Linked DNA regions of Homo sapiens: all the other regions are linked to region 2. The links come from fine-mapping of genetic effects on gene expression. A gene starts in region 2. Each other region holds a variant in brackets. All regions are shown on one strand. Distances are from middle to middle.

Evidence for each region.
Region 1: its variant is fine-mapped to the expression of APCDD1L-DT in monocytes after Pam3CSK4 (Quach 2016, PIP 0.95). The same link has a PIP of 0.9 or more in monocytes, monocytes after LPS and monocytes after R848.
Region 3: its variant is fine-mapped to the expression of APCDD1L-DT in aorta (GTEx, PIP above 0.99). The same link has a PIP of 0.9 or more in breast.

Annotation. Positions count from the first base shown.
Region 1 is chr20:58,539,425-58,547,601 of GRCh38, forward strand. All of the region lies in intron 5 of APCDD1L-DT (APCDD1L divergent transcript), which reads left to right. Among named protein-coding and RNA genes, the nearest start is that of APCDD1L, 28 kb to the left of the region's middle. RefSeq lists enhancers at 2,159-3,358, 6,637-7,138. The variant A/G (reference allele first, on the strand shown) is at 4,419.
Region 2 is chr20:58,511,217-58,519,393 of GRCh38, forward strand. APCDD1L-DT (APCDD1L divergent transcript) reads left to right here and starts at 4,163. Exons shown (of 7, transcript NR_034147.1): 1 at 4,163-4,524. APCDD1L (APC down-regulated 1 like) reads right to left here and starts at 4,183. Exons shown (of 4, transcript NM_153360.3): 1 at 3,443-4,183. The coding sequence starts at 3,491. RefSeq lists an enhancer at 2,786-3,784.
Region 3 is chr20:58,608,160-58,616,336 of GRCh38, forward strand. All of the region lies in intron 6 of APCDD1L-DT (APCDD1L divergent transcript), which reads left to right. Among named protein-coding and RNA genes, the nearest start is that of LINC01711, 23 kb to the right of the region's middle. RefSeq lists an enhancer at 1,840-2,341. The variant C/T (reference allele first, on the strand shown) is at 4,394.

The DNA of each region.
Region 1 (8,177 bases), 28 kb after region 2:
CATGCCAATCTTGTTTCATCAAATTCCCATATTTCATTGCAGAAATTTTTGAGTCTATAAAAAATAGAATCATATAGTAAACTCTCATGTAACCATCTCCCAGCTTAAACCGTTATCAACATGCCAATCTTGTTTCACTGAATTCCCATATTCTCTCCCCACCTCTATTTTAAAGTGAACACATCCTATCATTTCATTCACAAGTCATTCACTACAATGTAATACCATTACTGTGCCTCAAAAATGGACAGTCATTTTAAAATATCATATAATACCCAGTCAATGTTGCAATTCCATTGATGGCCTCATAAATGCTTTGTTTAAATTAAGATCCAAAGAAGATCCACACATTGCATTTGGTTGATTTGGTTTTGGAAATCTTTAGTGAATCTCCATTCCCTTTTTTATTTTCTTATTTTTCTATTGGAAACCATATCACCCATCCTGTAGCCTTTGCCATAATCTTGATTTTGCTGATGGGATGGTGTCTTCTGATATGTTCCTCTGTCCCCTGTGTGTCCTGCAAACCTGTAGCTAGCTCTCAGTAAGATCTAGAAGTTTGATGATGTTCATATTTGACTTTTTTGGCAAGAATTCATCAGAGTTGTCATTGTATACTTGTACTGCCTCATTCCACGTGATGTCTGTTTGTCTGTTAAGCTTCCTCAGAGGTTTTGGGGTTTGCCAGCCTGATCCACCATGGTACCCACCTTCATCCACGGTACCCACCCCCATCCCCCAATTCCCAGTGATCCCACTCCTGTTTACTTTGTTCCACTTTCTTACAAGAAAAATCACATCCTAAAATGTTCCCTCCTTGCACGGAAAACCCATCCAGACGAGGCTCAAGTCATAAAAGAGCATGAGACATGGATCTCCATTTGTTATGAAGTTAGTGGGCATCAGCTTTATCAACAGCCCCCATCTTTAATCAAGAAGAAATTACCCACTGGTGGGACATTATGGTTTTCTTTTACAACTAGCTCGTTTTTTAAAAAATTAATTTCAGTTCAATTTTTTTTTTAATTTTACATTTCGGGATCCATGTGCAGGATGTGCAGGTTTGTTACATGGGTAAACGTGTGCCATGGTGGTTTGCTGCCCCCATCAGCCCATCACCTAGGTATTAAACCCCACATGCATTAGCTATTTATCATGATGCTTTCCCCCACTATCCCCCTACACAGGCCCCAGTGTGTGTTGTTCCCCTCCCTGTGTCCATGTGTTCTCATTGTTCAGCTCCCACTTACAAGTGAGAACATCCGGCATTTGGTTTTCTGTTCCTGTGTTCGTTTGCTGAGGTTAATGGCTCAGTTCAACTTTTAAGCAAGGAAAGAGAAGGATAATTGTGCAGCGTTTCCTGAAAAGTTATGAAAGAAAGCAAAGGGTCATTTTTCAGAACTCCTCTCCCACCATTAAGAATCATCCATCGTGGCTCTTCCTTGCATCTTGCAGCCGAGCTGTAAGCCCTGGAATTGGCTGATGGGGCTTTGCTTCCAGAGATGTTTCTCAGATCCTCCTATTTACAAGGAGGGTGTTTGGAACTAGAAAAAAGCTGGAGGTTCGCATCAGGGGAAATTCTCAGTGCAGCTCACACACTCTCATGCCTGCTGGGAATCCGGGCCCTCCCCACTCCCACCTTCTCCTCTGCAGCCCTCTCCTCTCTTCTCCATCCTTATTTCCATTCGAATCAGTGGTTATGGGGTGCTGTCAGGCCTGAGCACCGATGAAGGGATTTTTCAAGCTGTAATTTGTCATGTGGATGAAGGTTTGATCCCTTGTTTGGTGCCCGCAACATTGGGGTCCTAATTTCCACTCCAGGGCCAGTTCTCTGTGGAGCAGGGCAAAGCTTGCCTAACCTTTCTATGTTAGTTTCATCTCCTGGAAAATAGAGTTAATATCTACCCTGCTCCTAGGAACACGGGAATTAGTTATTGTTTTTTCAGAGTGCTAATCTCATACCTTTGCCAACACAAGGCAATTCCACCAACAGCCCCCAAATTATATCTGATCACACAGTGGCTGAATGTGTTGATCATCACTACTTCCATTGTGAAACTCCAAACGAATATTTTTAAGGTTGCCACTTTATTCATAAATCCAAGAAGTTATCACAGCCACTGCAGTGAGTGAGGTTCAGAGCTGAGGGCCACTTGGAAAAAATCACCACCCACTCCAGCCCCGGCCTCCATCCAAGGCTAGGCAGGCTATCACGAAGCAAACGAGAAGGTCACGACAGGCTGCAGCTTCGTCCCTTTCCATTTCGGGCTATGATTAATCTTTTCTGATGTTCTTTTATTTGAAAAAATAATCTAAACTGGCCCCAGACAGAACCAACTCTCCTTAAAAGGGAAATCTACATGAAAGGACGGAATGTTGCTCACAGAGAGAAAAGACAGGGAACCCATCGCTGGAGGTTTGAGGCTCCTGAGGAGAGCACTAAGGTGCCTCGTCTTTAACTTATGGGCATAACGGGAGAGCTCTTTCTTCTTGAAGTTGGTGATTCACAACCTCATTTGAGGTCTGATTCCATCAAAAATACATCCAGCTCCAAGGGCTGCCAAAAAAAAGGAGGTTTTCTCTAACCCAAGAGACCCCACACAGTTTCTCCTCCAGCCTGGAGACCTGGGTGTACTGTCAGGGCCCCCACCTTCAGTTCTCCTGCCCTCCTGAGTTGTAAGCAGTCCCCAGGAAAGACTCTTCAAGAGGCAGGCCGCTTGGGTCTGGATGGTTCTCTAAGTCAGAGTTTCTCAACTGATGTGCGACTGACATTTGGGGCTGAGTCACTGGGGTGGTGGGGACAGATCTTTGGGGCTGAGTCACTGGGGTGGTGGGGACAGATCTTTGGGGCTGAGTCACTGGGGTGGTGGGGACGGATCTTTGGGGCTGAGTCACTGGGGTGGTGGGGACGGATCTTTGGGGCTGAGTCACTGGGGTGGTGGGGACGGATCTTTGGGGCTGAGTCACTGGGGTGGTGGGGACGGATCTTTGGGGCTGAGTCACTGGGGTGGTGGGGACGGATCTTTGGGGCTGAGTCACTGGGGTGGTGGGGACTGACCTGTGTATCACGGGAGGTTTAGTAGCCTTCCTGCTCCCACCCACTGGATTCTGTGAGCAGCCCCTTCTCCCATTGCAACAACCAAAAATGTCTTCAGACATTGCCAAATGCTTCTGGGTGAGAGGGCGCAAAATCACCCTGGTGGCAATTCATGGAGCTGTTGGTCCCACAGCCCTTTCCAGGGTGCCTTCATGTCCACAGGGAACCTTCAAAGTGCCAGGGTCTTTGGCTGAGTGGGTGAGACCTTGGGAAGGCAGAGCATGGAGCTGTCCTGACACGGGAGCATTTTTTTCCCTTGTGCACACATCCGCCTGGCAACCGTGCTACGAGTCACTGTGGCCTGCCTCCCAGGTGCCCCTTTGAATTGTGCCCACAAACCAGGTGGTTAATCAGCTCTCCAGCGCTGCTTGGAAGCGTCCCTGCCTAAGCGAGCATGTAATTACCAGCTCGCACCCTCAGCCGTGGACACGCAGGAGAGCAGCGGCAGAAACGGGTGGCTCATTGCAGGAGGGGGAGCGGGGGACTCTGGCCTTTGAAGCGTGACATGAATGCCAAAGATGATGGTGTCCGTCCCCTTTGGAGACTGGACATGTTTTGCTGGCCTTTACTGGAACACAGCCACCGGATCCCTGCAGATGGCTAGGGCTTCCTGAGCTACCTGTTTGAGGGAGCGGGCCCCCAGCCCCGGGGGGCACCTGAAGAGCGGCCTAAGCCTGCACACACCTTGGCCTCTTGTTAGGTCCAGGGGGGTGTTTTATTTGGCAGCCTTGTTCCCCATCGTATCAAACGAATTAAAATACGCCCACACTAACTATAGTTTGTTTGCAGTAAAAATATTTGAAAGGAGTTTAATGATTTTGCTTCTTAAATTATCTAGCAGCAGGTAATTCATCAAAGTTGCAATTACCTGTGATTTGCCCCACAACCAATAGGCATCCTTAGGCATTCTTGCAATGGTTTTCTCAAACGTAATGCAGTTTTTATGACGACGACATCATCAATACAGCACCCAGCAAGCAGTGAGGAGGCTGCACTGCTATAGTTGGCAGGCGTTTAATGAAGCATTTATTAATTTTGATTTTGTGGCTTTCTTGTTGAATTTTGGAGCCCATAATTTTCTTCCACATTGCACACACTTGCGTGGACCCCAGAAAGGTTCATGCCTAAGGCTCTTGGGGGTTTGTGGGTGGGTGGGGGTGCTCTTTTTTCTTGGCAGTATGCTGAAGGTGAGAAGATTCCAGAGGTAGCTGAACAGTTGCTTTGCTGGGGAGGGTTTGCTTAGCTGCTGGAGTCACTCCCAGTTTCCTCTTTCTTGGTTTTTGTGGTGGTAAAAATTAAGTCCAAGCATCTGGAGAGCCAC[A/G]TGTGTGATTTGCAAACATCAAACACAGCATTCATTCCTTATTTCTTGATTAATTTATTGGCTGTCGGCTTTCTGATCAGTCTACCAGCTGGGCATTTTACTTTTCTCTTACTGCGAACGAGGCGTAATTGCTGGGACGCAAACCGGTCGGAAAAACAATGAGAAATTAGGCATAATTGGGCGGCATTTCCTGACGAACTATAATGCCAAGCTCAACATGGGAGCCAGTGTTTTATTTTCTTTTTTACAAAAAGGGACTTCACAGTTATTCCTAGCGCGTGAGTTTTCCTCCCCACTGCTTTCCAATGCCTGGGACTGAGCGGAGGGGGTGATTTCCTTCTTCCCAATCAGAGGTAGCGAATCTCTCAGAGCTTATGGTAATATTTAAAGACATAAAAAGGACAGGACAATTAGAAATGTGCACAGGTAGCTTTAGGGCTGACGTTATTGATGCCTTTGTGATCAATAGCACTATTTTTATTTGGATTGCTAGCCATAGGAAGCTACGGCCACAAAATTTAGAGAGCCCTGCAGAGGGCCTGTAAAACCCTGTTGTAACTCTCATGTCAGGCCGGGAATAACGGCTGATTTAAAGGCTTTGGCTGGTGCAGTGAGGCGGGGTTTCCATCAGTGTATGCCCAGGAGAGGGGATTACATCTGCCTGGCGTCCAGACCCCAGGTGGAGTGAAGCCGTTTATAACACAATTTGGCTGCAGTTGAATTTTAATCTTGGGATCCACCGATTGCTTTAAGGGCGAGCTCGAGAAGCCGCCATTTGTTTTTGATAGCTTTACCCAGAGACTAAAGAAATCCCTCCCCCCACAGTTGTTCTGTTAGGGGTTGTGTCTGTGGAAGGGAATTGAAAGAGAAGATTTGGTAAATAGGAGCCATGGACTGTCGTGCTTTCTGGATGAACTGTGTGGACACTGGCTTTCTGATAATCATCGTAGCTAATATTCACTGGGTGCTAATGAGACGTGAGGATGCTGCTAAGCACATTTCACATCATGTTTATCTTCTTAATTGTTTATTTTATTTTATTATTTTTTTTGAGACAGACTCTCACTCTGTTGCCCAGGCTGGAGTGCGGTGGTGCAATCACCACTCACTGCAGCCTCTGCCTTTGAAAGGGCTCAAGCAATCTTCCCACCTCAGCCTCCCGGGTAGCTGGGACCACAGGCACATGCCACCACGCCTGGCTAAATTCTTTTGTATTTTTTGTAGTTTTGTAGAGATGTGGTCTCCCCATGTTGCCCAGGCTGGTCTTGAACTCCTAGGCTCAAGCAAGCCACCCACCTTGGCCTTCCAAAGTGCTGGGATTATAGGCCTGAGCTACCATGCCCAGCCACATCATGTTTATTTAAAAACAAACAAACAAACAAAAACAAAACCCAACTCACAACAACCTGTGAGAGACTATCTCAGGCCCATCTTCTGGACCCGCACTGGCCAATATGGTCACCATTCGTTACTGCGTTTGAAATGTGGCCAGTCCATACAGAGACAAGTTGTAAATGTCAAACATTCACCAGATTTCAGACTTGAGGTGAAAAAAAAAAGTGTTAAGTACTCAATAACTTTTATATTGATTACATGCTGGGATTTGGGTGATATAAAATGTATAACGAAAATTGTATTCTTTTGATTGTGTACCCATTTGTTTTTACTTTTTGAAAATGTGGCTAGGAAATAAAAAATTATGGATGTGATTCACATCATACTTCTAAGGCACTGATCTTAGAAGAAGAAAAGACACACAGACCTGTAATCCCAGCACTCTGGGAGGCCAAAGTGGGCGGATCACCTGAGGTCAGGAGTTTGAGACCAGCCTGGACAACATGATGAAACCCCATCTCTACTAAAAAGGCAAAAATTAGCGGGCGTGGTGGCATGCTACTTAGGAGGCTGAGTCAGGAGAATTGCTTGAACCTGGGAGGCGGAGGTTGCAGTGAGCCAAGATCACGTCACTGCACTCCAGCGTGGGTGACAGAGTGAGACTCAGTTAAAAAAAAAAAAAAAGAAAGAAAGAAAGAAAGAAAAAGAGGCCCAGAGACTAAAGGATCATGCCCAAGGCCGCCCAGCATGCAAGTGTCCGGGCCTTTTAGATGCTAACAACATGACCCCAGAATGGGCACTTGTGCATGAGTCAGTTTCTCAGTCAGCTTTTTGTCGTCAGCCCCACATCCTGCAGACCTTGGCTGAATTTGTAGCCCCTCCGGTCTCAGTTTTCCCAGCTCGGTCATCAGAGGCTGGAGTTGAATGATCTTTGTGGCTTTTTTGCGGACAATGGCGTTCTCAATTTTGTACTCTTTGGCACAGAGTGGTGTAATGTGGAGAGGGGAGCATCAGTCTCTCTCTTAATGCTTATTTAATTATATTTAATTAGGAATCTCGTTGCAATTGGTCTCCTGGGGCCATCTGCTGTGGAGATTTTTGAAGAATCCAAATTTTATTTCTTGCCATCGATCCATGTGGTTAATGGGCCTGAGGAGGAATGATGTCATCTGTCCTTCTAACTTAGCACAAGAGGCAGGAGGAGAAATTGAGCAAAATCAGGCTGAGCGCCCGAGAAGGCCACCCTTTGGAGAGCCAGGGCGGGCCTGGCTCATTCCTTCAGGTTCTCAACTGTAGTGCCCACGGTGTGCCCCAGCTTGCTCTGCCCTGTGCCAGGATTTTGGGGACAGCTGGGTTCTGGCATCATCTGTGCCCTTGTTAACATGGTACCCTAAAATTGATGCTTGCCCTGATGGTAAAATGGTGGTCTGCATGTGATCGGCACCAATCTGTGACGTCCAGGGTTCTTGAGTCAGCCACGTATTCCCTGGGTTGCCTTCAAGATGACCTGAGTGGACTCACTGCCTATTCTTTTCCCTCTAGGTGGAATAGGATTCTTACAGGAGTAGGGTGATAAGAGAAGGGGGCTCTCCTTCATTGCTGCCATCGGGCTCCTTGGTGGAAAACTGGGGCAGGATTCAAAGCAAGGCTGACATGACCTGTACTTCCCCAGAAAGGAGCCGCTGGAGGCCTGGCTAGGGCCAGCTCTCCAGCCCCGGCAGCTGCCCCCCACCCACCCCCACCGGGCATTTAATCAGTGTAACTGATTAGTTGAAACACACCACAGGCTGGGAGCCTGCGACCCTGGCTGACGTCCGGGGCTGTTGTTTATGGCTGGGTGATTTGAGGCAAGCCTCCCGACCCCGCTGAGCCTCGGATCCCTCAGTTACAAAATGAGACTTATCATATCTGCCCCCCTCCCTCCCCAAGTTGTTGAGAGGCTCCAACAATGTAGAGAGGCTGATATGAAATGTGGGTAAACAGGAGAGTGGTATTTAAATGTACGCTCTTACCATAATTGCCTTGTATTGTGTGTGTATCTTATCTCCCCAATTAGATGCGAGATCCTTGGTGACAGCCACCATGTCTCCCCCCTTTTGATATTCCCCACGCAGCCGGGATGATGCTGAACATATGGCTGCTGCTCAATAAATATGTTCTGAATTGTACTGAATTTCATTTTGGTTCCAAATCACCCTAAAAACTTGATCAGGTGCAGCCCAAAGGAGCAGGCTGGATGACGGAGGCTCCCCAGCCTGGCTCTGTGGCCGTTATGGGAAAATATCTGTGGAATGAATGAATAGATGAATGAATGAATGAATGCCTCGTGGTGTTTGCTTTACTCTTCCTGCTCCCAGCTTTGACACTGGCTGTGAAATCTGCCTCCTGTGCTCAAAATGACTTCTCCCTCTCCTCCTTCGGGAT
Region 2 (8,177 bases):
TCCAAAACCACCTTCCGTGCCAACTTCAGAATTCACTTCCTTCTCAAGAGCCCCCCAACTCAACTTAGCTGCCCTCAAGCTCAAACCAATTTTAATGGCTTCTCCTTCCCTTTGCATTGGGCTATTGATCTTCATTTTCCAGGCTGGTTTTGGCAGTGAACCACTGTATTTTGGAAGTTTTATCAGGGGCTCATTCTGGCTTTAAGCTTTCATTAGCATAGTTAACTTCCAATATATTGCAAAAATATTTCTTCACGTGTAGCTTCTAACTGCTTTGCCATCCAGATGGTTTTGAAATCAAGGAAGCTGCTGTATTTGCCTGGAGCTGGTTGTTTTGAATTTTGAGATTACAGCCTTGGTCAGAAGATAAGTGGCACAGCTGGCCACAGTGATTCATCTTCGAGAAGCACTTCACACAGTAGCAAGAGGAAGTCTCCATTGATAATTTTTTTTGTTTGTTTTAAGTAACTAATACGATTACGGGTCTCTATTCACATTAGATTTTTGGATGAGTGTATTTAAGTAATTTTCTTCTTAGTTTTTATTCTGGGTTTCAAGGCAGAGCTCCACATCAACTAATTTATTATGGAATAGCTTGTGATTTTGACCTAGTTAATCTGACTGTAAATGATAACTTGCCATCGCAAAGTATATAGCGAGAGATAAAAGCAGAGCTGAAATTAGAAAAAAAAAATACAAGTTCGAAAAAAAAGCAGCAGCTATGGTTTCTCATTTTCCCCCTCCAGCATAAATTGTTGAGTAATGAGATTTTTAAAAGCCAGAAATTGCTGTGGAGTGAACCAACACTGGCAGCTGGAGAACTGGCACCAGACACATCTGGCCTGACAGGGTTTGAAGGAAGGTTCGCTGCAGTGGGTGACTACCCATACCGCAGCCTGGCTCCTGCGGCCGCCATGCGGACATGTTCAGATACAAGAGGGAGGGAGAGCAAATGGGAAAAATCAACGTCCAAATTAGAAACTACCTAAGCTATGTTGTTTTTCTTGGGGCCCCACTGTGCCTTTGATTTCCTGATCGTTCAGAGCAAGAATAACAAAATCCGTCTAACCCAGTGATTTTGACGGATTCGTCTGAAAAACTACCTGTTGGGTTTGATCTGTTCATACCAGTGATTCTCAACTGGGGGCCACTTTATCACCTGGAGACATGTGGTCATATCTGGAGACATTTTCAGTTATCATAACTAGGAGGAGGTGCAACTGGCATCTGTAGGAAGAGGGCAGGGATACTGCTAAGCACCCCAAAATGCACAGGACGGGCCCCTCATCCCCAACAAAGAATCCTCTGGTGCCAAATGTCAATAGCGGCGAGGTTAAGAACCCCTAACGTGTGTGTACTCAATCTGAATTCTCTTGGTGGGGTGGCTGGTGTGCCATTATATATATAGTTTCTGGAACCTGGAGACATGAAGTTCAGGCGTGCCCAGCTCAGGCACCTAAATTATGTCAGTAGCTGAAGGATTAACTGGGTCCTGTTTCCTTTTACTAAAGCAAAAGGATCTCATCACCTGGTGATGTAGCCAGCGGTGAAAAGAGCTTTTCAAAGAAGCGTTCAGTGGAAAATAGTGCCCGGTGTAGAGCTGGGAGCTGCAGTGGCAGGCTGAACGGCACCCTCCCCCTTTCTGGTGGCTGTGTCTGAATTGAGGGCAGGCTGCCCCCCTCTCTCGTCAGGCCCCCGGGCACTCTTGGCTTCTCTGCTGTTGAATCTGTCTGATTTGCTGTGGTGAAAGGTCACCGAGGAGCTGGGCAGCAAGACTCCCCAAGAGCCAGCCACGGCTCTACACTCACAGTGATTTCATTGGCATGACGGGAAGCTCCGGCCTGCCAAAGACAACAGCCATGTGCTGTGACTGAGACTGCAGGTTCCTGGGGCATGTGTCCCACCACTCTAGACTGTTCCATTCCCACTGGGTGCAACGGCCTGGAGGAGGCGGATGAGAGCAGATGGACACCCGGTTTCCCCATCCTGTCCTCCCTATCTCAGCACCCAGCAGAGGCGCGCTTCCACAGCTGGCCCCCTTGTCACCCTTTCCAGTTTGCATTTTCCTGCCCTTTCGAAAGAACCAGCAGGGGTGAGGTGGTCTATTTTCATGCTGATGATCAACTAACTCTGTGGCCAAGGACAGCTGTGTCACCTCTCGCTCCCAGACTGGCAGGGGAAGCGGCCCCTGGATGAATGTCCCTTTCGACAGGTGAATCTGCAACTCTTCAAACTGCGGAGGCACCCTCCCCTGACCCTCCTTCAGACCCCTGCCAGTTCTTCTCAAAACAGCTTGTTTAGAAATTTGGGGGCTGGGAAGAAAAGACTGTGATTGAAGAGCTCCTCGAGGTGACTTAGACTTTGCTCCTTGCCTATACATGGAGCAGAGCGTGCTCTGTGGGACCGCGCAGCCCCTCTTCACCCCGGGGTTCTCGGCTGCCATTCCCTGAACATGAGCTCAGTGCCAGGCAGCAAGTGGAGTGATCCTCCTGCACGTGCTCTCGTAATCTTCACAATCATCCCAGACGGAGGAGGGGATTTTGTGAGCCCATTTGACAGGAAAGAAAGTCAAGGCTGAGAGAGCCGATGGCCATGCTTACCCAAAGCCAGACGGGTTGATATGATGTTGATCTGGGCTTCCCAGCCAGGTGGTCTAACTCCAGGGCCAGAATTCTCAGCCATTCATAATGTGAGGGTGCTTGGGGATGAGCCCCCAGCTGGGCACACTTCAACTGTGGTTACTGTCATTTTTGTCAGTGGTGACTGGGCCCCTGTGATGGCACACTCCAGTCAGCTGGCCTTTGTACAGTTTTGTCTACCCTACTCCCCACCCCCACGAAGAGCCACCAGGGAACCCCTTAGTCCTGGAGAAGGCATTGACTACTCTACCAGGGGTTCCTGAAGCCCCTTGGTCCCCTTTGTCAGGCCTGCTGGGCACAACTCGAGCCTGGGGTCACTGCGCGCTCCCTAGCTTCTCCCCGAGTCCTGCTGCAGGAAGAAGCCCCGACCCCGCACAGGTCAGGATTCCGTGGGCAAAAACAACCCCAGTAACCTTGGTCTGAATAGCCGGGCTTGTCCCGCACCATGGGGGTCTCAGTGGGCCTGGGATCCTCCTGCATCTTCTTGGAGGCCCCGGTCCCACTGGGCCCGGCACAAAGGGCAGCTCTGGGTACCTACAGGCCAGGCCCCGACTGGCGCAGAGAGTGCAGCGGCTCTCATATTGCGAGGTGACGCGACTCCCTCCCGCAGGCCCCAGGAAGCTCCTGGAGGCGCGCAGGTGCCGGCCAGGTGAGACTGGAGAAAGGCGCGCAGGGCGCAGCATAGCAGCCGCGTGGGCCGACCCAGGGCCGTAGTCCCCAAGGGCCCTTAGGGGACATTAGACGGCGAGCTCCCTCCCTTCCGAGCTCAGCCAGTTTGCCGGGTGGGGGAGGGTGGCACCTACCTCCCAAAAGCACCAGGACGCAAGCGTAGGGGAGCATGGCTGCGGGCATCCCGTCGGGGCTGGCAGGACCGCCCGCCGGGCGCTGCCACGGTGCGCAAGGGGAGGCGCGGGCGCAGGGCTCTCGGACGGCTGCGGGCGCCGGCGGCCAGGCTGGAGTCCTGCGAAGAAGTTGCGAGGGTCCTGCGCCCCCCTCGGCGCTCACACGCGCTCAGCCTTCCCGGCTGTTGATAGTTGTAAGCGGAGCTGCGCACTCATAGGTCCAACTTGCCAGAAGAGGTGGAGACAGCCCCCGGCGAGGCGCGCACACCCGCGCAGCGCGCACAGCCCCCTGGTGCAGCTCCTGCCATTCAGACCCCCAGCCCTCCCCCAGATGTCCGTCCCCTGGCCGTCGCCTTCCCCAAAGTCTTCGCAGTGGGCAAGGAGGCCTCCCCCAAGCTCTGGTCCCGGCCAAGGCAGAGCGATGCGCTCCTTGCGTCAAAGCGCACCCCTAGCCAGGCCGTTCCCTGGAAGGGCAAGCGGGGCGGGGAGTTCCTCTAAGCCCCGCCAGTCCTGGGACCCCTGAAGTTTCTATTCAGGTCTTCCAGCTACTCCTGGAAAAGTCGCGTCAACTTGGATCCCAGCAAACCCAGAAGCGCAGTGAAAGTGGCCAACCCGGTCGCCTAGAAGCCAGCCCCGGCCTCTGTCTGTAAATGAGGCCGTCACCCGCTCCCCACCACACCCAAACGCATCTAGGCAAAGTGTGGACCCGACCAGGCGGGTTTTCCTCCTTCTCGCAACTCCTCCTCCTGCCCCCCTCCCTCCCAAATCTCATCTGAGTGAGTCAGCTGAGGGTGGCAGCTCAGAAGCGAGGCAGCCGTGAGGCGGAGGACAGGCTGGGGGATCCCAAAGGGTGCGCTCCAGCCCCCAACCCAGGCACTGGGACTCTGGTGGCACCCTGGGTGGCAGGCAAGCCTTGAAATCAAGTGCACGAGCCTTGGAAAGGAGGACCGGGAGAGTTATGGCATTTATGAATGAAGAAGAGAAAGAGAATCACTCGGATGGGAAAAGTTAACTGGATTGTTCCCACCTGCATGGATCACCGGGTAACTGCAGTGGGACCGAGGGGGCGAGGCTGCGGGCTGGGGATGTGCGGGTTTCCTTGTGTTGCCACGAACCCAGAGAGGGAGAGGAAGAAGATGGAAAGAAAAAGGAAAAAGGGAAAGAAAGTAAGAGGGGAGAGAGGGGAAAACTGAGGATGAAGAGAGACAGAGAAGAGAGACCTGAGAGAGGGAGAGAAAGAAAGAGACAGAAAGAGAAATGAAAGTGAGGAAAGGGGAAACAGGCAGAGAAAGAGAGAGAAAGGGGAGGAAAGAGAAAGGGAAAAGAAAGGAGGGAGTGAAATCAACAGAAAAAAGAGAACCAGGAAGGAGGAGGGAGGGGGAGAGAGAAGAGAGAAGAGAGAGAAGAGAGAACAAGAGAGAAGAGAGAAGAAGAGAGAAGACAGAGATGCGGTCTCCCTGGGGAAAGGTTTGGAGAACTGGGCCAGGCCTGTTTCCCGGGACTCACGAGTGAGCAGTCCACCTGCCCCTCTGAAGCATTTTATAGACTCATTTGTCCCACTTTTGTGGGCTGATCATCCCACAGGGGAACAGGGGACACCACCTCACCTTTTGATTTCTTACCAGAAACTTGGGCGAGGCTTCCAGGAGCCACAAGAGCCCTTCAATCCACCCAGGGACCCCCGATGTGGGCCCACCAGCCATCCTTAGCTTTCCTCCTCTCCAGAGGCAACAGGGAATAGGAAAAAGTCCAGAGCAAGGCCACACCATGATCTTAACGCAAATGGAAATGTGAGGAAAACGATCAATTTGCTTCCTGAAAATGACATTTTTTTTTTCTGGTTTCTATGAGACTCGAGGTGGCCTTGCTGAAACTGAAATCGGTATGAGCTTTCCCTGGCAGACAATGGCCATTGTCACATATTAAATTCTCATGAAAGGGATAACTTTGTGGGCAAGAGGAGAGTTGTGCAGGGTGATTATTTATACTTGCATAATTGTGATTATTTGTGGCAATTATGGGTCTTTCAATGTACAAAATTTACAATTATGGGTAGTTTAAAAACTACATGCTAAGGCCGGGTGCCGTGGCACACACCTGTAATCCCAGCTCTTTGGGAGAGCCAGACGGGTGGGTCACCTGAGGTCAGGAGTTTAAGAGCAGCCTGGCCAACATGGTGAAACCCCGGCTCTACTAAAAATACAAAAATTAGCTGGGCGTGGTGGCGGGCGTCAGTAATCCTAGCTACTCCAGAGGCTGAGGCAGGAGAATCACTTGAACCTGGGAGGCGGAGGTTGCAGTGAGCTGAGATCATGCCATTGCACTCCAGCCTGTGTGACAAGAGTGAAACTCCATCTCAAAAAAAAAAAAAAAAAAGTTAAAACTACATGCTATTCTGGCCATAATCATTTGAGACTTCAGTCTCTGGGCTTTCCGGATGTGGGTATTTCAAAGTCCCAGGCGGCTGATGGGGGTTCACGCATTAGTGGCATTTTGTGGGGAGAATGGGTGTTACATTGATGTCCTACATAGGGTCATAATTCAGTATTTTCAGAACTTATTGTACTGCTGTTAGAGATACGAACTTTTCCACAAAGTATGATGCTTGTGTATTAATAGTTGTACTGGCTTATTTATAAATGAGAGGATTTGCTGATAATTATTGAGACTGTGGCATGGGCCAGGCACTAGTTAGGTTGAGTACTTTATATGCATGTACTTTATACCTGAACAAATTGACAAGAAGTGGGAATTACGGTCAGGCCATTTTACAAACTGGGGCAACTGAGTTCAGAGAGTTTGGGCCACTGTCCTGAGGCCAGGCAGCTGGAAGGTGGCAGAACTCCCGGATCCCTGCTTCCAACCACCGCGCTGTGTCTCCAGGACACGTCCTGTCTCACTGGGTTTTCTGCTCCTTTCCAAATCTGAGGACCCCAAAAGAAAAGGCCTGTTTTATAATAACGGCTTCTTTTCGAAGAGGTGTGTGAATAATGGGGGAAACACGACTCCAAAGTACTTTTTCTCTCCAGCCTGGGCAACATGGCAAAACACCATCTCTAGAAAAAATACAAAAATCCTCCAGGTGTAGTGGCACATGCCTGTGGTCCCGGCTACTCGGGAGGCTGACGTGGGAGGATCTCTTGAGCCTGGGTGGTCGAGGCTGCAGTGAGCTATGATTGTGCCACTGCACTCCAGCCTGGGTGACAGAGCAAGACCTTGTCTCAAAAAAAAAAAGTGCTTTTTCTACATCCTAGCTAAACCCCAGCTGTTGAGGCTGAGAGTTACAGGTGGGCCCTGCGCCTGCTGCATCCTCACCCTTGTGATGGGGCGACACTTGGGAGGGTGTGGGCAGCTGTAAAGGGCACTGGAGACTGACGGGTCCAGCGTTCCTCACTTTCCAGGTGAGGAAACAGAAGCGCAATGCAGGTGAGCTGACCCTGTTGAGATAACACAGATTTTACCCCACAAATAGAAAAAAGCAAAGAAAATGGACAAATAGTGTTTGAACAAGGCTGTCCTCAACTCACAAGCAGATCAAACAAGAGCAAAAGAAGGAACCGAAGCTAAAACTCATTTATTGTCTTCAAACATATATTTATTTTTAATCAAAAAAAGAAAAAAGTTATGTTATCCAGATCTTGCATTTTGCTCAGGGAAGGGTGATATACGCTTGGTTCCTGACCTCTTTCTTACCGAGTAATCGCTTGAGAGCTTTTGAAACGGCAGCAATCATAAGGCTGTTTTGGGGAGAAGCCTCAGCTCTGTGTTGGCCGTTAAGTCACGTCTGTGGGCATTATCGCATCTTGGCCTCCGTAGCTGGGCTTTCCTGGGCTGTTAACTGCAGGGGCCCTCGCTGGGTGGTCAGAGCTGCTGCGGGTGAGGTTTTGGGAGGATTCAGGGGGTCTTGCTGGGTGTGAGGGAAGCGGCCTTGAGTCAGATGTCTGTGAGTGGGACCCAGCCTTCTTGCTCCACGTTTATCTCCCACACCACCCCTTCCCCCAGAATCAAAGTCCAGGGGGAATCAGGAGGAAAGTATTGCAGAGCAGGGCCTCTTTTCCTTCCCCCTCCCCTCCAAATGCCTACCTCTTCATCCTTGTCCCTGTTAAAAACACCATGGGATCATAAGATCACCCCACAAAATCTTGCTATAAAATGGTCTGTTTCCTCTGCTTGTTATCAGGGGTAACTGATCAAAGAAATGGTGCCCAGGCCTGGTTATCTAATAACCAAATAAACATCCAGGCAGCCTCCTGGGCCAAGAAGGGTAGGCAGGGGTAGCTCTGGATGAAGCAGGGGACAGGCCAGGGTGGGCTGGGCCCCTCTTGGTGACCATTTCTGCCTCCAGAGTGAGCATGCTGGCTCGGCCCAGAGTCGACCAGATCCTTATAACAACCTGCATGTTACAGATGAAGAAATTGAGGCAGAGAAAGCAAGTCTCTGTCCTTCAGAAATGCCTGGTGCACCCCTGAGCCTAGCACATGCCTTGTGCATAGTGGGGGCTCGCTGCACGTTTGCTGAGTGAATTAATGAGAGAGCAAATGAACTATCACAGAATGAGCACTGGGTTTATCAGAAGACCTGACTTCAAATCATAATGCTACCACTTAGCCACTCACCATGGCCGGTGCTAGGGGGAGGCGAACTTGTTCCCAGGGCTCACCATGTAATAGGCACTCACTCTTGGGTGGGCATAGGT
Region 3 (8,177 bases), 97 kb after region 2:
GGGATGGGAGCGGTGAGTGCCGAGGTCCTAGGGCATGAACTTGCACCCTGAGCTGGGGGAACTGCAAAGGTCCACAGGCCCCAAAGCAGGGGCTTGAGAGGATGGGAGTGAGGACCGAGAGGTGGCTGAGCTCCATTACAAACCACCCATGGGAGATGTGGCCCTTGGCACAGCAGCAGCACCTGGAGACACCGAGGCAGCACCTGGAGGCTTTAGGACACAGCGCTGTCCCCATCATCATAGGGAAGCTTCCTGGGGGATGTCCCAGCCAGGGTCCATTAAGGGTCTGGCCTCATTCGCTGTCTGTCTGTCTGTTCATTCTTCACTCCCTCCTAGCTTCTGCCCCAGGCCCTGCCTCGTGGGCTGAGACTGCTGCCTGGCACTTCCTGCCCCAGCTGAAGGAAACCAGGCAGCCCACACCTGCCATTCGGGTCGCATGTGTGGGCCTGGGGCCCGGGGTCACTGTCGGGATGGGCTCAGCAGGTCCTAGCTTGCTGTGTGGAAGGCCTGGGGCCGCAGAATGCCCCATTGTTCATCAGGACGTGGAGGCCCAGGCCAGAGATGCCAGCTATTTTGGGTGCTGGGCGAAGGCCTGGATTTACTTGCCACAAGCGTTTTTCTCAGAAGGAAGGTCAGTGGGCCCAGCCTGGGAAGTCAACCAGTCCCACCTGGCTCCGATTCTCCCCCGTGCTCTCAACGTCCTCTCTGCAAAAGACAGGGGCCAGGGTGTCTGTGCAGTGCCAGTCGGGAGGTCTGGGTGTGTGGTGGGGGGCAGTGACTGTGTTTTCCAACTGCAGAGGCCACAGTGGGCCTCCCAGAAGCACCTACCACCTCCAATGAGCCCCTTCCATTTCAGGGAGCCCACCTGTAGACCCCCGATGCTTGAAAAACCCTGATTAGGAACTCCTGGGCTGGTGCAGCACCTGGCACATGGAGCCAGGTAATAGAGCACATACATACATCCTATGTTCAGTCCGCAGCCGGGATCAAGCTGTCTTTCCGAAGCCCGCACGAGTGTCACAGCCGTTCCAGACCGCTCTTTGGGTCAGGGGCTCCCGAAATCACCTGCTTCTAGGAGCACGCACACACATGGGCATGGAGGCATTTGGTTTCAGAAAGGTCAGAGGCCCCAGATCAGATGATTCTGGTGTAGGTTTGTGGCCTGCCTAGGCTGGAGGACTGACTTCAGCATTACCACCAGGACAGGTGGACTTGGGTGGGGCCGCTTCACCACTGCCGAGCCATGCAACCTGGGACAAGCCCTGGACCTCTCTGAACCTCAGGCTCATCACAAAACAGGAATCATCATCCTCCTCACCTATGGAGTTGTTGAGGAATGAATGAGTTCATCTGGGCAGAGCATGCAGTCCCAACAGGACGGAATTTGCTTCCCAAGGGGGAAAAACATATTTTACTCTTTACATTTAAAGCATGGATACCTGAACAGTACCTAAACAGACACCCAGTATACCTGTGGCGTTAAAGTGTCATCGGAGAGAGCTATTAGGAAAAAATGCCTTAAAAGCCTCCTTGCAGGGGTGAAGAATGGCAAAAGCTTACAAAGATGGTTCCTGGAACACAGCAGGTGCTCAGCAAACTTCAGCTGCTTTGCTGTTATTACTACTCACAGCAGGTGTCACAGAGGAAGGACTGGTTGCAAGCTTGGGTTTAGGAGCCATACTGTTGGAGGTCCCTTCCTGGCTCTGCCACTTGCCAGCTGTGTGACATTGGGCAAGTTGCTTGACTTTTCTGTGCCTCAGTTTCTCTCATCTGGAAGCAGAGCTAATTAGAGCACCTGTCTCGTGCAGTTTTGTGTAGATTAGATGGGTTGATTTGTGTGGTATGTGTAGTTCAGTGCCTGGCACACAGTAAACACTCAGTAAATGCAAGCTATGATTATTATTGATTAAGATTGTTAATTATGACATGCAAGGAACTTGGGGGTCAATGGTGCTCATTGAGGGGAAACTGTAAGGAAGGGTGAGGTTCAAGGTTGGCCCCTAACTGCTTCTCCTGGGCATCTGGTCTGGCTCTAGCCTCAACCACTAAGGGCTGTCCTGGGCTCCAGAGGAGGGGCCGGGTGCCAGCCTAGGGCAGGAGCACCAACCGAGCACGTGAAGCACTTTGCACAGTGGCAGGGTGCTCAGGACTCTATGGAACACCCCTATCTGAGCACTGACTTCAGAGCAACGTGTCCTCCATGCATAACCCAGCTCCACATGCAGGGAGCCTGGGCCACTGCGGCCAGCTGCCCCCTTACCCTCTCCATGCCTGACCTGGCTGAGGTGGGGAGGGAGGAGTCTATCCCCTTCACACGACTTCCCAGACGGTGAGCCCCTCGCTTTCCTGGTCCGGACCCACAGTGAAGACTCGCTCTCCTGGGATCCCACGGAGACCTTACGAGGCCCCACGTGGTCCAGCCTGCCCGCCCATCCCTGCTCATCAGCCCACTGGCCACCCACTGCTCCAGAACACAGCAAGCCTGTCCCGCCTCAGGACCTTAGCACAGGCCATTCCACTGCCTGGAACTCTCTCCCCGTGGCTGGGGCCTTCTCAGCCTCCAAGTCCCCCAGTCAACCGTCCCCTCCCCTGACAGGCCTTCCCAGACCATCCAGGGTGAAGTGGACGTCACACGCCCTCCCCTCCCCTCCCCAGGTCTTCTCGTCATCATATCCCTGTTTCATTTTTGTGTTGCTCTAATCACGAACAACCATTCTCTGTGTGCGTGTTTCCTGTCCTTCTCCCCGTGAAAGATGACAAGCTCCATGGGCTGGGGGCTTTGTCTTGCCTGCTTCCTGCCCGCCACTTCCCAGTCCAGGGCCCCGCCAGCCCTCAGTACCTGCTTGTTGTGGGGATGAAGCCCACCGAGACCTTGGCTGCGCTCGTCATTTGCTGCGGTTGCCATCCCATTTTACAGCTGTAGACACTGACAGCAGAGATTCCTTTTGTGTCAATATCTCAGGGAAGTTTCTGGAACCCCTACCCAGGACCCAGGGAAAGGACTCTGCCTGGGAGGTTTCAGAGGGCACAGGAATGCAACACTGCTCAGGCCCTGGCACTTACATTTCTCTGCAAGGAGCATTTTCCTAAAATTTGTCTGTTGCCTCTGGACGCGTAAGCAAGGTGACTAAGGGACTCAGGATTTGATTAGGCAGCAAATCCGGATAAACAGGACAGGTGGCACTAATCAGAGCTGACGACTAGACAAGGCCTGGGAGGCCCTCAGGCTCTGTGAGCTCAGAGCACCTCTGTGGAAACTTCCTTCTGCCCGGTCCCCAGAGAGGATGGCCACAGCAGCACCCTGCCTGGCTGGGACGTGGCTGGATGGGGCACAGGCCTGGAGACCATGTGGCATGCACCCTGCCACTGAGCCCCCAGGTGGAGGTGCCAGGGGAGGGAGGTGGGGCTGCACAGGGTTTCTTGGCTGTCTCCAGCCAGTGGGGGACACTGAGCTTGAACTGGGCAGGTGACGACTTCTCTGGGCCTCAGTTTCCCCCTCTCTAGAGGTGATGAGTACAGGCCTGGGCTCCTGGCCCTGAGGTCCTAGGAAATGCTCTGTGCTGCAGACAGTCCATGAGGCCAGGACTGGCTCTGGCCCAGCCTGGTGTCTCCCAGGGCATGGAGGGAACACACATTCACTTCCAGAGAGCTGGAGCCTGGGGCAGGACTCTTGCCAACAGCCCCCGGCCAGAACCTGCAGGCCTCCCTCAGGTCCCACCTGGAGCCACCTGCCTGCCATGCCTTCCTGGCCTCGTTCCCCCATGGTAAAACAGTCACTGTGCCAGCCTTGGGCCAGGCTCTGACCTAAGTGTGTGTTTGTAAAGCAGTAGCTTCCTTTTTGCCTTCCAACAACCCGCAAGCCAGGAACTGTCACTGGCTCTCGTGTCACAAACGTGGTTTGAGGAACGCCTGCAAGGTCTCATGGTTAGAAAGGGCAGAGCTGGATTTCGGACCCATGCTGGCTTGAGAGGAAGACTCCCTCCCTCCCTCCCTCCCTCCTTCCCCCCTTTTCCTCCCTCCCTCCCTCTTCCTCCCTCTCTCTTTTCTAGTGACCAGAGCTTTCACTGATCAGCTAACAGTATTTGGCTAGCTCCCCAGGATCTGCTCCTCAATCCTAAATGGGACAGAAGTCTTGGCCACCAAGCGTGCCTGTGTCCCCCGCCAGGTTGAGGGGCAGAGGGTGCCACTGTGGCCCCCCGTGCCTGGCGGAAAGCACACCCCGGCTGGGTTCTTAAATCCGTAAGGTCACAATCAACAAGTGAAGGCACCCTGAGGACCCAAGGGCAGAGAGTTCCAGGAGGCGGCTGCGGGAGGGGCTGTCTGGGGCCCCCTCAGGCCCGCAGGGGTCAGGGCCTGTTGACTCTGGCGTCCTGTGAATAGACTCTTGCAAAGC[C/T]GCCATGTTCTCTGCTTCCTTGGGGAGGCACCTTGTCTTCTTAAGTCATTCCGTTGTGTCGATAATGCCTATTCTTTCCACGGGGCCATCTGCCAAGGTCAATGTTTGTGTTGTTTTAAAAACTTACATTGTATCACTGTGGGAACTTGAGTGTACAGAAACCTTTTTTTTTTTTCCTTTTAAGGAGGGGGCTGGGTGGGAGGTGGAGGTAGAAAAGTTTTCTCACTTTTCCTCTATTGCTTTAACATAAGACACCATTTGGATGGCGTTGGCTTCCCGAAGCTCCAGATATTTGAAGCTGTATTCACCGCGTGTGGTGCTTGCTTCTCCCTCCCCACCCTCTGAGGACACAGCCACTGGCCATTCCCTAGTAAAAAAAGAAAAAGGAAGAGAGGGACAGAGGGAAGAAGAGGTGGGAGCTTCCTAGAGCACAGACCCTGATTAATGTTCCAGGGAGAAAGGTTAGAGATATGTACTCAGGAAAGAAAATGGGAAAAAGGCCAGGTGCAATGGCTCATGCCTGTAATCCCAGCACTTGGGGAGGCTGAGGCAGGAGGATCACTTGAGCCCAGGAGTTCGAGACCAGCCTGGGCAACATAGTGAGACCCTGTGTATACAAAAAATACAAAAATTCTCCAGCCGTGGTGGCATATGCCTGTGGTCCTAGCTGCTTGGGAGGCTAAGGCGAAAAGATTGCTTGAGCTCGGGAGGTTGAGGCTGCAGCTAGCTGAGATTGTGCCACTGCATTCCAGCCTGGGCAACAGATCAACATCCTGCCTCAAAAAAAAAAAAAAAAAGAAAAAAGAAAACAGAAAAGGAAAAGAAAAAGAAAAAAGGTGGTGGGGAACCATCTTGGAACGAAATTCACTCCATGTTTGTCTGAGCCTGTCTGTTTCTGCAGAAGGGAGAGAGGGGTGATTTTAATTGAAAAGGACAAAATTAAATAAGGCCCGGACTTCAGGTACTCAGGAGCCTCATGGACTTGTCCCCTGGCACAGTGGCTGCCGCTGCCACCTCATGCCAATTACGCGGCCGGCCAACACCATCAGGGTCCCCAGATTAGATGCCAGGCCCCTGGGCCTGCTTTAGTCTTGGGCAAACCAGGAAGCTGGCCGCCAGCAGCCCACAGCCCTGAGATGCCGGGAATTTGTTTCTCCAAAAATGCCCTGATGAGGCCGGTGAAAAGGAGGGAAAGGCCTGACACGGGCCCTGGTTCTCCCGGGACACAGTGGCCCAAGGCTGTGTCGGCCCCAGCCCCGGGAGAGGTCAATGGCAGGAGGGTTTGTGTGGGGATCAGACATGAAGCTGGGCAACAGCAGCAGACAATGGGTCCTGAGGCTGGGCCCAGACCTCTTAGGCCCCATCAGCCACCTCCTCCAGGGAGGACTCTTTGATTAACACTCACTGGGCCCTTCTGGCTTTGGCTGGTATGAGAGGAAACCTTCCTTCCCCACTGCCTCCTGTCCTTCCACAATTCTTCCTAGAGCACTGGATGCTGGGGGCCCAGAGACCCCAACACACAAGTCCCTCAGAGTTTGCAGTCTAGTGGGTAGAGAGACGACGAATCAGGCTCTCCCAGCAGCCCTGAGCTAGGGAAGAAAGGACAGAGTGTCTTGGGGGCAAAGAATGGGGCTAGGGGTCAACAGGGCCCTTCTGGGGCTGGAGGAAAGATAAGCGGGAGTGAGCTAGGCAAAAATAGGGGTGCGGTGCTTTAGCACACGCAAAGAACAGGGTGCCTGTCTCCTTAGGGGCATGAGAGGAGGGAGCTGCAGCCTCACGGTGGGGTGGGAGATGCTGCTGGCAGCAGAGAACAGGCTGCTTGGGAGCCGCCCTGACATGACAGGGGCCTCAGAGAGCCCTAACTTCAGCAGCCCAACCCTCACACATCTGCCTATACATCCGCACTGGAGCAGGCAGAGGCTTGGCCTGGGAGAGGGGCTCCGGCAGCAGCAGTAGCCCCGGCAGCCTGTGCACGGAGCCTCCCTGGGTCCCGGGGTCACTAGTGAGGCTGCTTTGCCCTTTCTTCACAGGGTGACCCACCTGACTGCTCAGGGCCGCACAAGGGCCTCCATGTGCTCCCGTCTCTAGCAGGTGAGGCTACACGGGCGGCTCACTGCCTCACCCATGCGTCCCTGGGTGCTCCAATGGCACCGAAGGCAGTAGGGATGCTCCGCCACTTTGGGGTATATGCAACGTGCAGCCCTGCAGCCCTTCATCCTCCTCCACCCTGGAGGCTCAGTCAGAAGTGGGCACATGCACCTCTGTCCCGAGGTGAGGAAGCTGAGGCACAGGAGTGCAAGGGGCACCCCAAAAGCCACCAAGCTCCTAAGCAGTACACCTCGGACCTGAGCCCATGTTGTTTGGGATTTCTGTTGGAGGACAACTTCCATGAGTCTCTGCCACTAGCTCACTCTGTGACTTGGGGCAGTGACTTCAGCTCTCTGAGCCTCACCATTCTTGTCTGTCAAATGAGGCTAATGGCTGTGCCTCCCCTGTAGAGTCACAGTGGGGAGTAGGGGGTGATTGGTATACGTAAGGCATTTGCAACTGTGCCTGGCGCAGGTGAGCCCCTACCTCGTCCTCGCGTCTCCCCTCTGGCCCCAGGATCCTCTTCACTGTGGGCCTAGATCCAAGTTGCCTGGCACCAGGTCCTTGCATGAGCTCATGTTTGTTTAGAAATGAGAGACACGGACCATGTGGTTGTGTGTGCCACCTCAGCAGTATATGTGTCAATCAACAATGTGCTGCCAATCACCGGAGTGTCCTCCGGGTGCAAGGCGAAGCCATTTTGCTTGCCTTTGTTCACTGTGACCTCACAACAGCCATCGTCATTTCACCAATGAAGAAACAGAGGTTTTAGTGGCCCAGCCATTCAGCCAGCGTCTCACGGCCGTTGGGCAGGGGACCCACAGTCAAGCTGATCCCAGAGTGTACCCCCCCTCCCCACTATCACCACCCACAGCCCCACAACGGACCATGGTGTGCTTTCCTGGTCATCATGGACACTATGTGTGTGTCCGCCGGGCCTGTGGACTCCGAGAATGCAGGCAGCACGAACCCACGCCTGGGATCCCCACTGTCTGCAGGGTGCAAACGGTTCCTCGGCCCAACAGGCCAGGGCTGGGCTGCTTTGAGGGAAGTACAGGAAAGAGTAGCCAGGACAGCTGTCCACACGCTCTTCCTCTCCTTAATGTGTTTCCTCTGACCAAGAGCAGCGAGGCAGGTGGGCAGGGAGAGCTCAGGTTGGTGCCTGGGCCCAACCGTGACGCTGTTTTTAGAGGAATGAGTGTGAAATGCTTTCCATGCAAAAGGGAGAGAGAAAGGGGGAAAGGACCAGGGGAGAGGCAGAAGCCACTGGCTGAGTATAGGACACCCCAGCTCGGAGCTGGAGGCAGCATGGCACCAGTATGGTTGGCACTTCTGGGGCCATGGAGGCAGGGCAGGGGCCCACGGAATGCTAGATCTTAGAGACCTGGCAAGGAAAGTGGGGTGGAGGCAGATCAAGGGGCTATGTTTGGGTTCAGGGGCCCTAACCCATCAAACGGTGCAGGTAACGGCTTCCTTGAAGAGGCTGGGTGAGCTGGGACCAGGAACATAGCTCAGGTGACCTTGTGGGGCTGAGGCTGGCACACAGCAGGGTCACCACAGCCATGGGCAAAAAAATGTGTGCACCTTGTGCTGGAATTCTCGCCATGCTCTGAGCTGGTATGCTGTCAGACGTGGGGGTCTGCTCCCCAAACCCTGCTCTGCTTCTCCTCTCCCGAGGTCATTTGGCCAACAGTGA